2 linked regions of the Homo sapiens genome follow. The protein of the gene in region 2 purifies or fractionates together with the protein of the main gene of each other region. This does not show direct contact. Each region holds a gene or a part of one and is shown on either strand. Other genes may lie near its edges. The genes, in order: WDR1 and UAP1L1.

Region 1 (3,799 bases), on a different chromosome or scaffold from region 2:
AGCTCCTGCTGCCCTGAGACTTCCCTGTAAACTTAGTGCCTCTGGGGGCGTCAGCAGCCAGCGCTTTTTAGAGCTCCCAGGTGGTTCTAACACGCAGCCTGGGCTGATACCTGCTGCTCCATCCCACTGCAGCCCAGATCAGCACCGAACATCAGCATCTGCGTGACTCACACAGGTGTGGCATTTGAGAGTTGGGACATGGGGGTTTTGACAACTGGCCCTTGGGGTTTTGGTGGAAGGGTGGGATGCTGGTTGCTTTTTTGGGACATAAGTTTAGCCACGGTGGCAGGCCGGGTGCACTGGCCCCAGACAGTTGGCAGCAGTGGTATTAGGAAGAGCACTCTCAGGGCAGCCCTGCCAACAGAAACGGGACGGCAGACCTGAGGGCTGACACCTGGAGAACACTGTCGGGGATGGCTCATGGGAAACTGTTTTTCTGGGCAGTAGCGAAGCCTTACTCACCCGTGTACAATTTCTCACCATCCCACTTGGAGGCCCACTGGAGCATGGTCTCGACAAGAGCCCTCAGCTCCCCCAGGCAACAACCTCCTCGGCCCCATGCTGTGCGTGCCTTCCTTTTTATACTCATCACCCTGGGCTGTGAGCCCAGCAAGGAGGCGCTCCCGATTCCCCTCTATCCTCGAGGCCACGTCTAGTGAACCTTTATGGTTCAGCCTTCCCCCTCTCAGCAGTGCTGCTGCCCCCACTGCCCCGGCACAAAGGAACCGTGACTCTATGCATGAGCGTTGAGGTGACCTGGTCCGTAGGAGTCACACACACAACGTTAACGAGGCCCCTTCCTCGTGGGCAAACTCCCATGTAGAATGGATTTGGTGATTCTAGCAGCCCCTCCTAGAAGCCGTGGTGTGAAGGAGCCACTGACAGCACAGCACGGGCCGAGTGCACAGGCCCGGGGGCTGCTCCAGGCTGGCCCACACTAGCCCTGCAGGGTTCAGACCCTCTGCAGAGGCTGGTCCCCCAGAGCTCCACGGCAGCAGGATGCAATGGGTGAGGGAAGTGCTAGGGTTTGTCTCCCCGAGTGGCTTAAAGCAGGAGCCCGAGAAGGGCTGCTGGGATGAAGTGCATTGTCCACCTGCCTTGATATTACAGCTTAGAATAGCAGGAGGGGTCACCCACCCTGGGCCACCAGCGCTGGGGGAACCTGACTTGGAGTTCCCAGCAGATGCAGTGTGGGAAGCAGGCGAGGGCGCTGCTGTGAGAGGAGGACCTGAGGATACAGAAGGGACCCCTGCTCTGGCTCCTGTCCAGCTGCGAGATTCCCAGAGGCGTCAACTTGGCTGGTGTGGGTGGAGGGAGAAGGCAGGACCCCCCCAGCCAATGGAACACAGGGAGCCTTTGGCTCAAGTGAACCCTTCCGGGTTAGGGTTCAGAAGCAGGCACCTTGCTCCTCCCCAGGTTGGCATTTGGGGCCTTCACACCTGGGACCCATGGATGATTCTAACTCCGTTTCCTCCTGCTCCCATCGCTCCCTTATGGAACTCCAGTATCTCCTTCACACCCTGCCCACCACATTCAAACTCCAGGCAGCGCCAAGGCCCAGGCCCAAGGCCACCTGCTCTTGCTCCTCCCTCCTGCCCCTGGACCTCAGCGATGCCCCGTCACCTGCCCTGGTGCTCAGTGAGCTTCTGCTCTTGCCTGCAGTCGGGTAAAGCACAGGCTGTGCACTCCCAATTCAGGGAAGGCAGAGCCCTGCAGGAAGTAACCGCTCTCAACAGCTGGGGGTGATGGCCACTGCCCCGAATCACTAGGCCCTGACTCTCCAGTTCTCACAGTAGCTCAAGGGGAACTTGGCACCTGGCCTGCCACCATGGCTAAACTCATGTCCCAAGAAAGCAACCAGCATCCCAGCCTTCCACCAAAACCCCAAGGGCCAAGGAGGCCTGAGGACACCTCTCTAGCTTCCACCTGGCTTCCCCTCGGTTCCCCTTCCTTGCTGGCCACTCTGGTCTCTTCCCTGTCCACCCAGCGGGCAGAGCCTTCCCCAGGGCAGGCCTTACCTTGATGACGTGCAGGGGCTTGCTGGGGTTGTTTCTGTCCAGATAGTTGATGTACCCGGACAGGGAGACACTGAGCAGGTGGTCCTTCTGCCATAGGCAGCCCAGCTGCTGGTCCAGAACCGTGGAGCCCATGGGAAATGTGCTGACCACGGAGTTCACGCTGACGTCCCAAATCTTGGAAGTTTTGTCCCCAGAAGCAGAAAGCAAATGGGTGCTGTCGGGACTCCAACTAATCTATTCAGAAAAAAGCAGTGTGTCATGTGCCAGAGGACTACAGACTGGAGAGAGACCCCAAAAAGCAGCTTGTCCACTGCGACTGTTTGAGTAGGACAGAAGGAGCCCAGAGAGAGGGTGGGACATGAGTGAGGCCAAGGACAACACCCGCCTCCAGGTCTCCCGTTCCAGCCACTACCTTCTCCCATCACCTTATTGCGACCTTAAAGCTTTTCTGGGCAGATATAAAACCGCCCCGACTTATAGCCCCTCATTTCAAGTTTTTGTCTAACTCCGGAGTGAGTGTGGATGGACTGACACGTGGACTCGGCCAAATTCCCACCACTAGGCCGGGAAACACGCTCATACTCACTGCGTAAATCCCACCGTCGTGGGCCTTGCTTCCGCCCAGCGCGCACACCTTCTCCCCAGTCTTCCCGTCATAGATGTATATCTTCCAAGAAATAAAAACATGTGGGTCATGTGTGTGTGAACACCCTCTGGAGTAAGCAGTTTCTCCATGGACTGTGGCTGTAGAAAACCGGGGCTCACAGACTAAGCTCCCAGTGTGGTTTAAAAGCAGACATGCATTTACTGGGCTCTGACGACGAGTCTGCAGATGTGGGGAGGGCGATGTCTAAGTTCTGCATGTCAGGACTAGCATTAGGCAGCCTGCGGCTCTGAGCAGTCACGGGAGCAGGCAGACAAGCCATTCCCCACCCCAAAACCCATCCCAGTTCTTACCTGGCCGTCAGCACTGGCTGTGGCAAATCTGTTCCCATCAGGAGAGAATCGCACACAGTTGACAAAGCGGCTGTGGTCCTGCAGGAAAACAATTACCTGCCTGATGAGGGGCCGCAGGCCTGACTCTAGGTTCAAGAATGCTCTCTATGAAACACAGCTTGCAGCTCCAGCTGTTCATCAGTGTGAACTGTTAGTCCACTGGAAAATTTCAGAGCTTAAAAAAACATCCTGGGCAGTCCCTTAGTGGAGGGGCAGGAGTCTGCTCCAGCCTGCCTGCCATGCTGACCGCTCTACCTGCTGGGAAAGCTGATTAGCCCGAGCGAAGGCAGACCACCTCCAGTTATGCCCCCCCCAGTGAGGTGCCCCCAGCAGCTGCCCTCTTCCCTCTGGGCTCTGAAAGAGCTCAAGCCCCAATCCTTAAGCTTCACGATGGCTGAGACCAGGAGGCCTCTTCCTGGAGGCACCAGCCCTGTCTGGCTCTGTTGCCCAGGCTGGAGTGCAGTGGCACAATCTCTGCTCACTACAAGCTCCGCCTCCCGGGTTCACGCCATTCTCCTGCCTCAGCCTCCCGAGTAGCTGGGACGACAGGTGCCCGCCACCACGCCTGGCTAATTTCTGTATTTTTAGTAGAGATGGGGTTTCCCTTTGTTAGCCAGGATGGTCTCAGTATCCTGACCTCATGTTTCCCCGCTTTGGCCTCCCAAAGTGCTGGGATTACAGGAGTAAGTCACTGCGCCTGGCCAATAATTAACTTTTAAACAAAGTTAATGATTATGACCTTCATCAAGAACAAGAGCCTGAGCGACTAAAAGGAAATGACATGA
Region 2 (4,522 bases):
TTTTGCTCCTGAGACGCCAGGGATGGCCCAATCCCAGCAGCCATTTCCAGCAGCCGAAGGCCCAACCCTGGGACCCCTGCAGTGAGGGCCAAAGGCCCTGCGAGCCGCCCTGGCAACCTGGCCAGGAGACCTCTCCTAACCATGGGTGGGGGCAGTGGAAGGTCCGGGAGGTGGCACTACTGTCCTCCCAAGTCCACAGCCCCAAGGACTCCCTATGCCCCCACCTCAGGGGCTGCTTACCCTCAGGGCCAAGAGCACCCTCTGGTCTTCTCCCTGAGACTTGCCCGCGGGGCCCTTGGCTCCCTCAAGCCTCTACTTCCCTACCAGCTGCGCCTCAGTTCCCACCACCAAAACTGAGAGAAGGAAGAAGGGGAAAATAAATGAGTTCTACTACTAACTTAGCAAACCGGAACACATCAAACACAAACTTCTCCATCTTTATCCCGTTCGGTTTTAGCGGCTTTACCAGATTCCCCTCCTCATCCACATACGGGACCTTCTTCACAGCCACGTGTGGCTTCAGCAAAGGCTCAAACTCCCTGGGGCACGGGAGAGCAGAGGGGAGGAAAGAAACAGATCAGATATGGCACCGCTGGGGGCTCTGTCCCCACTTCTGAGCACACCCAGCTGGGTGGGACAGGATGGCAGAAGGACACTACAGGGCACAGAAGCGGCAGAGTAGGGCCAGATCTCCAGGGAGAAGCAGGCACAGGCCTCCTCCCTGCATCCCTGTGCCAAGTGCCAGGCACCATCAGCCACATCCCTGCCCAGGCAAACAAACTGGCAAGCCCCAGAGCAGAGGTAGCACCCTGGGCACCAGGGCAGGTCCCCAGAAGGAGGAGATGGCAGACTTGATCACAGAGCCTTACAGCAGCTGCCTGCTGAGCACGGCTTGTGCCTGATCTCCAGCACCTCTGCCTTTGCAAGCTCAGGATCCATTCTCCACCCCGACCCATCAGCCGTGCCTGACCACAGCCACTCCTGACCACAGCCGCTGTGGCCCAGGGCACTCAGCTCACTGGGACCCCGCGGGTCCCTGGTCAACGCAGGCGGCTCTGGCCGGCAATCCGCAGCCACCTGCTGCCGCACACCTGGTGACCGCCTTAAGGAAGCCTCGGGTGAAGAAGTGGTTGCAGATGTTGCCTGCATTGTACAGCAGGCTCCCGTCGGAGGCACGTAGCTGTGCGGTCTCAGGACTGATCTCGCTGTACTCCACCACCTGGGGGACACCGTCCACCTGGCACACCACGCCCACGGGCTCCTCGGGGTATGCCTTTTCCACCACCTGCAGCCAAGACCAGGGATGGGTTCCGAGGGCTGGGCGGAGGGGCGGGGCTCCGTGAGGGGCGGGGCCAGCCTCGGGTGCGGGGCGCCGCGCAGTCGGGCGCTAACCTTGGCGCCACAGTCTGCGCCCTGCAACACACAGAAGCCGATGAAGACAGGGTCCGCCAGCCGCACCAGGATGTTGTCCACACAGTACACGTGCACAAACTCCACTCCCCGGCGCTCCATGTCCTCCAGGATCTTGTGGTCCTCCAGCGCGCAGTAGAGGCCCCCGTTGCCGTCTGCAGACGGAGAAGGGAATGGGCATCGCGAGGGCTCCCGCCAGGGATCGCTCTGGGAGTCTAGGACGTGCTGGAGGCGGGGGAAGCCCCGGCCTTGTGCCTAAGGCAGCCCTGGTCACTAACCAGACAGCCCAGTTGGTGTACCATGTGACAAATGACGATCAAGGCCCAGAAAAAGAGGCGCCTAACCCAGGACCACACAGCCTCGGGGCAGCCGCGAACCCGGGCGCGTGGACCCCCAACTACGCTCCCAGTTCTAGTCTGGGCGGTCCCTCCCCGTCTCAGGAACGGGCCACACCTGGGGCCATGGCAACTTTGTCTTTCCGCTCCAGGATAACCTTGCCATCAAAGGTCACAGCAGGCAGCAGGCGCTGCTCAAACATGACCACGTTGGCGGGGTCCAGGTGGAAGAAGTTGTGCTCCCTGAAGAACTCGGCCGTGGGCCCCAGAGTGAACTCGCTGGTCATGACGTACCTGCAAGGGAGGCGCGGTGAGCCGGCCGCGAGTACGCCTGGCCCTGCAGGCAGACGGGGCTCGGACCAGAGCCGGCATCGGGGTTCGGGGTCCAGTGTCCAGTTGGGGCTGGGGCCAGGCCCCATTTTGGGCCGGTTCTGGGCAATGTCCCGGTCTGTGCCGGGGTTGGGGCTCGCGTCTGGAGCGGGGATGTGGGGGGGCGTGGGGAAGGGTACCTCCGGGCCGAGGTAGGGCAGGCAGGACACACCAGGGGACGGTGCAGCGGGTCCCGTGGCGCTCACCGGCCAGCTGCTCCACCCGCCGAATCCGCTCCGCCTGCAGCTGGTACAGGGTCTTCCGGCTGGGCAGCCCCACACGGTACATACCCTTGGGGTAGGTCACGCCCAGGCGAGTGCCCTGCCCCCCAGCCAGCAGCAGGACGGCCACCTTGTTCAGAGAAATCTGACGGAAACCTGGGGGTACGGGCGCCGTGAAGGGACGCCCGGGACCCGCCCACCCTTCCGCTTTAGGGGAAACCAACTCTGGGGCTGGGGCGCCAGGACTCGGGGGCCGGAACGCGTGAGGCGAGACACGTCTCAAAGTAGCGAGGAGAACTACAGTTCCCCGAGCGCGGCCTCGGTTCCCACCCGCTCCGTGGGCACGACCCCCTGCCGGCCCCCAGGGCCTCCCACCCCGCTTACCTTCCTCCTCCCAGCGCCGCCGTGTCTCGGGGTCGCTGCGGCTGGCCCTGCCCACGCGCTCTGGGGGCAGGGGCCGCAGGCGCGCGGCCAAGTCGGGCGGCGGGCCGTGGGGGCGCGCGCAGGCCTCCGCCGCCCGCCGGCAGTGCTCGCGCAGCGCCTCGGGCTCCAGCAGCGCCAGCTCCGCCAGCAGCGCGGCTCGTGGCTCCGGCGCCAGCTCGGCCCAGAAGCGCAGGAGGTGCTCCTGGCCAGCGCGCTGCAGCCGGGCGCGCACGTCCTGCTCCGAAGCCATGTCGCCGCTGCCGTCTGTCAAGTCGGCACTCGTGACCCGCGCCACTGACCAGCGTCACGAGACCGGGCGGGCGGTGTAGACCCCCCAGTGGGGCGGGCCCCGGGCGCCCCGCCCCGCCCCGCCCCGCCCCGCCCCATCCCGCCCGGTCCCGCGCCCTGCCCTGGAGCCCGCCCACCCCCGCTGCGCACCCCAGACTCTGTCCGGGTTCTCTCTGACCCCGCCCTGTCTACATCCCCCCAGCCCCCCCGCGTCCGGTCCGAGACTCGAGACAGGGCCCAGCCCCATCTCTCCAGCCTGTCCCCCGTCCCTCTCCGTCCCCTGGACCCGCTCCGGTGTCTGGCCCTGGCCTGCTCCCTCGAGCTCCCGTCCCCGTTCCTGCTCTTCTCCAGGCCCCGGGCCCATGCCCGCCCTGTCCACTCCGCGCCCCGCCCCGAGAGATCCCAGGACCCTCTGGGTCGCGCCAGCTGGCGTGGGCAGAGGAATCGACCATTGAGCTAAGGGAGGAAGAGGCCCCAGGGACGCCCCGCAGGGGAAAGCTAGGTTCTGTCCCAGCACGGGCTTTGAACCTGAGAGTGGCATGGCCACCTTTGCGCTAACCAAGACTTGGACGGAGACCTCCTGGTGCAGAGACAACCGGCCAGAGTGCATTGAAGAGGCCTGGGCTACGGCTGAGCTGTTGGGAGGCTGGAACCAGACCAGGTTCCGGGATGCCATCCCGCGGCTTGGGGCTCCCTCCCGCACACCCTTCCTGCTTCCCATTGCCTGGTGACCAGAGCGCTCTGCAGCCCCTCGCCCACATTGTTATTTTACTATCAGGTTTTAAAATATCTTGCTTGTGGTCGGCGCGGTGGCTCAAGCCTGTAATCCCAGCACTTTGGGAGTCCTAAGTGGGGTCAGGAATTCGAGACCAGCCTGGCCAACATGGTGAAACCCCGTCTCTAATAAAAATAGAAAAATTAGCCGGGTGTGGTGGCAGGCGCCTGTAGTCCCAGCTACTCGGGAGGCTGAGGCAGGAGGCCTTGAACTCAGGAGGCGGAGGTTTCAGTGAGCCGAGATCCTGCTGCTGCACTCCAGCCTGGGAGACAGAGTGAGACTTCTCAATAAAAATAAAAATAAAATAGTTTGCTTGTGAAAAATATGAAAGGGTAGCTTCTGCCAGTTGGGCACAAAACTTTCTCCTAGAAACTATATAGTAAGTCTAAAAGTAATATATGTGACTGCATAAAAGAATTCAAATGGTGGCCAGGTGCAGTGGCTCATGCCTGTAATCCTAACACCTTGGGATACCGAGACAGGATGATCGCTTGAGCCCAGGAGTTCAAGACCAGCTTGGGCAACATGGTGAAACCCCGTCTCCACTAAAAATACAAAAATCAGCCAGGTGTGGTGGCGTGTACCTGTAGTCCCAGCTACTTGGGAGGATGAGGCACGAGAATCACTTGAACCCGGGAGGCGGAGGTTACAGTGAGCCAAGATCGCACCACTGCACTCCAGCCTGGGTGACAGAGCGAAAC

Evidence for each region.
Region 1: the proteins of UAP1L1 (region 2) and WDR1 fractionate together in Homo sapiens (co-fractionation; one large-scale study listed by BioGRID). This does not show direct contact.

What each region holds. Positions count from the first base shown.
Region 1 is NC_000004.12:10,085,689-10,089,487, forward strand, and holds part of WDR1 (WD repeat-containing protein 1), read right to left. Parts: intron 3,054-3,799; coding exon 2,976-3,053; intron 2,845-2,975; coding exon of another isoform or gene 2,686-2,844; coding exon 2,605-2,685; intron 2,253-2,604; coding exon 2,019-2,252; intron 1-2,018.
Region 2 is NC_000009.12:137,076,019-137,080,540, reverse strand, and holds the start of UAP1L1 (UDP-N-acetylhexosamine pyrophosphorylase-like protein 1), read right to left. Parts: upstream 3,025-4,522; 5' UTR 3,009-3,024; coding exon 2,720-3,008; coding exon of another isoform or gene 2,492-2,719; coding exon 2,287-2,491; exon of another isoform or gene 2,255-2,286; intron 2,040-2,254; coding exon 1,864-2,039; intron 1,566-1,863; coding exon 1,393-1,565; intron 1,286-1,392; coding exon 1,092-1,285; intron 540-1,091; coding exon 399-539; intron 1-398.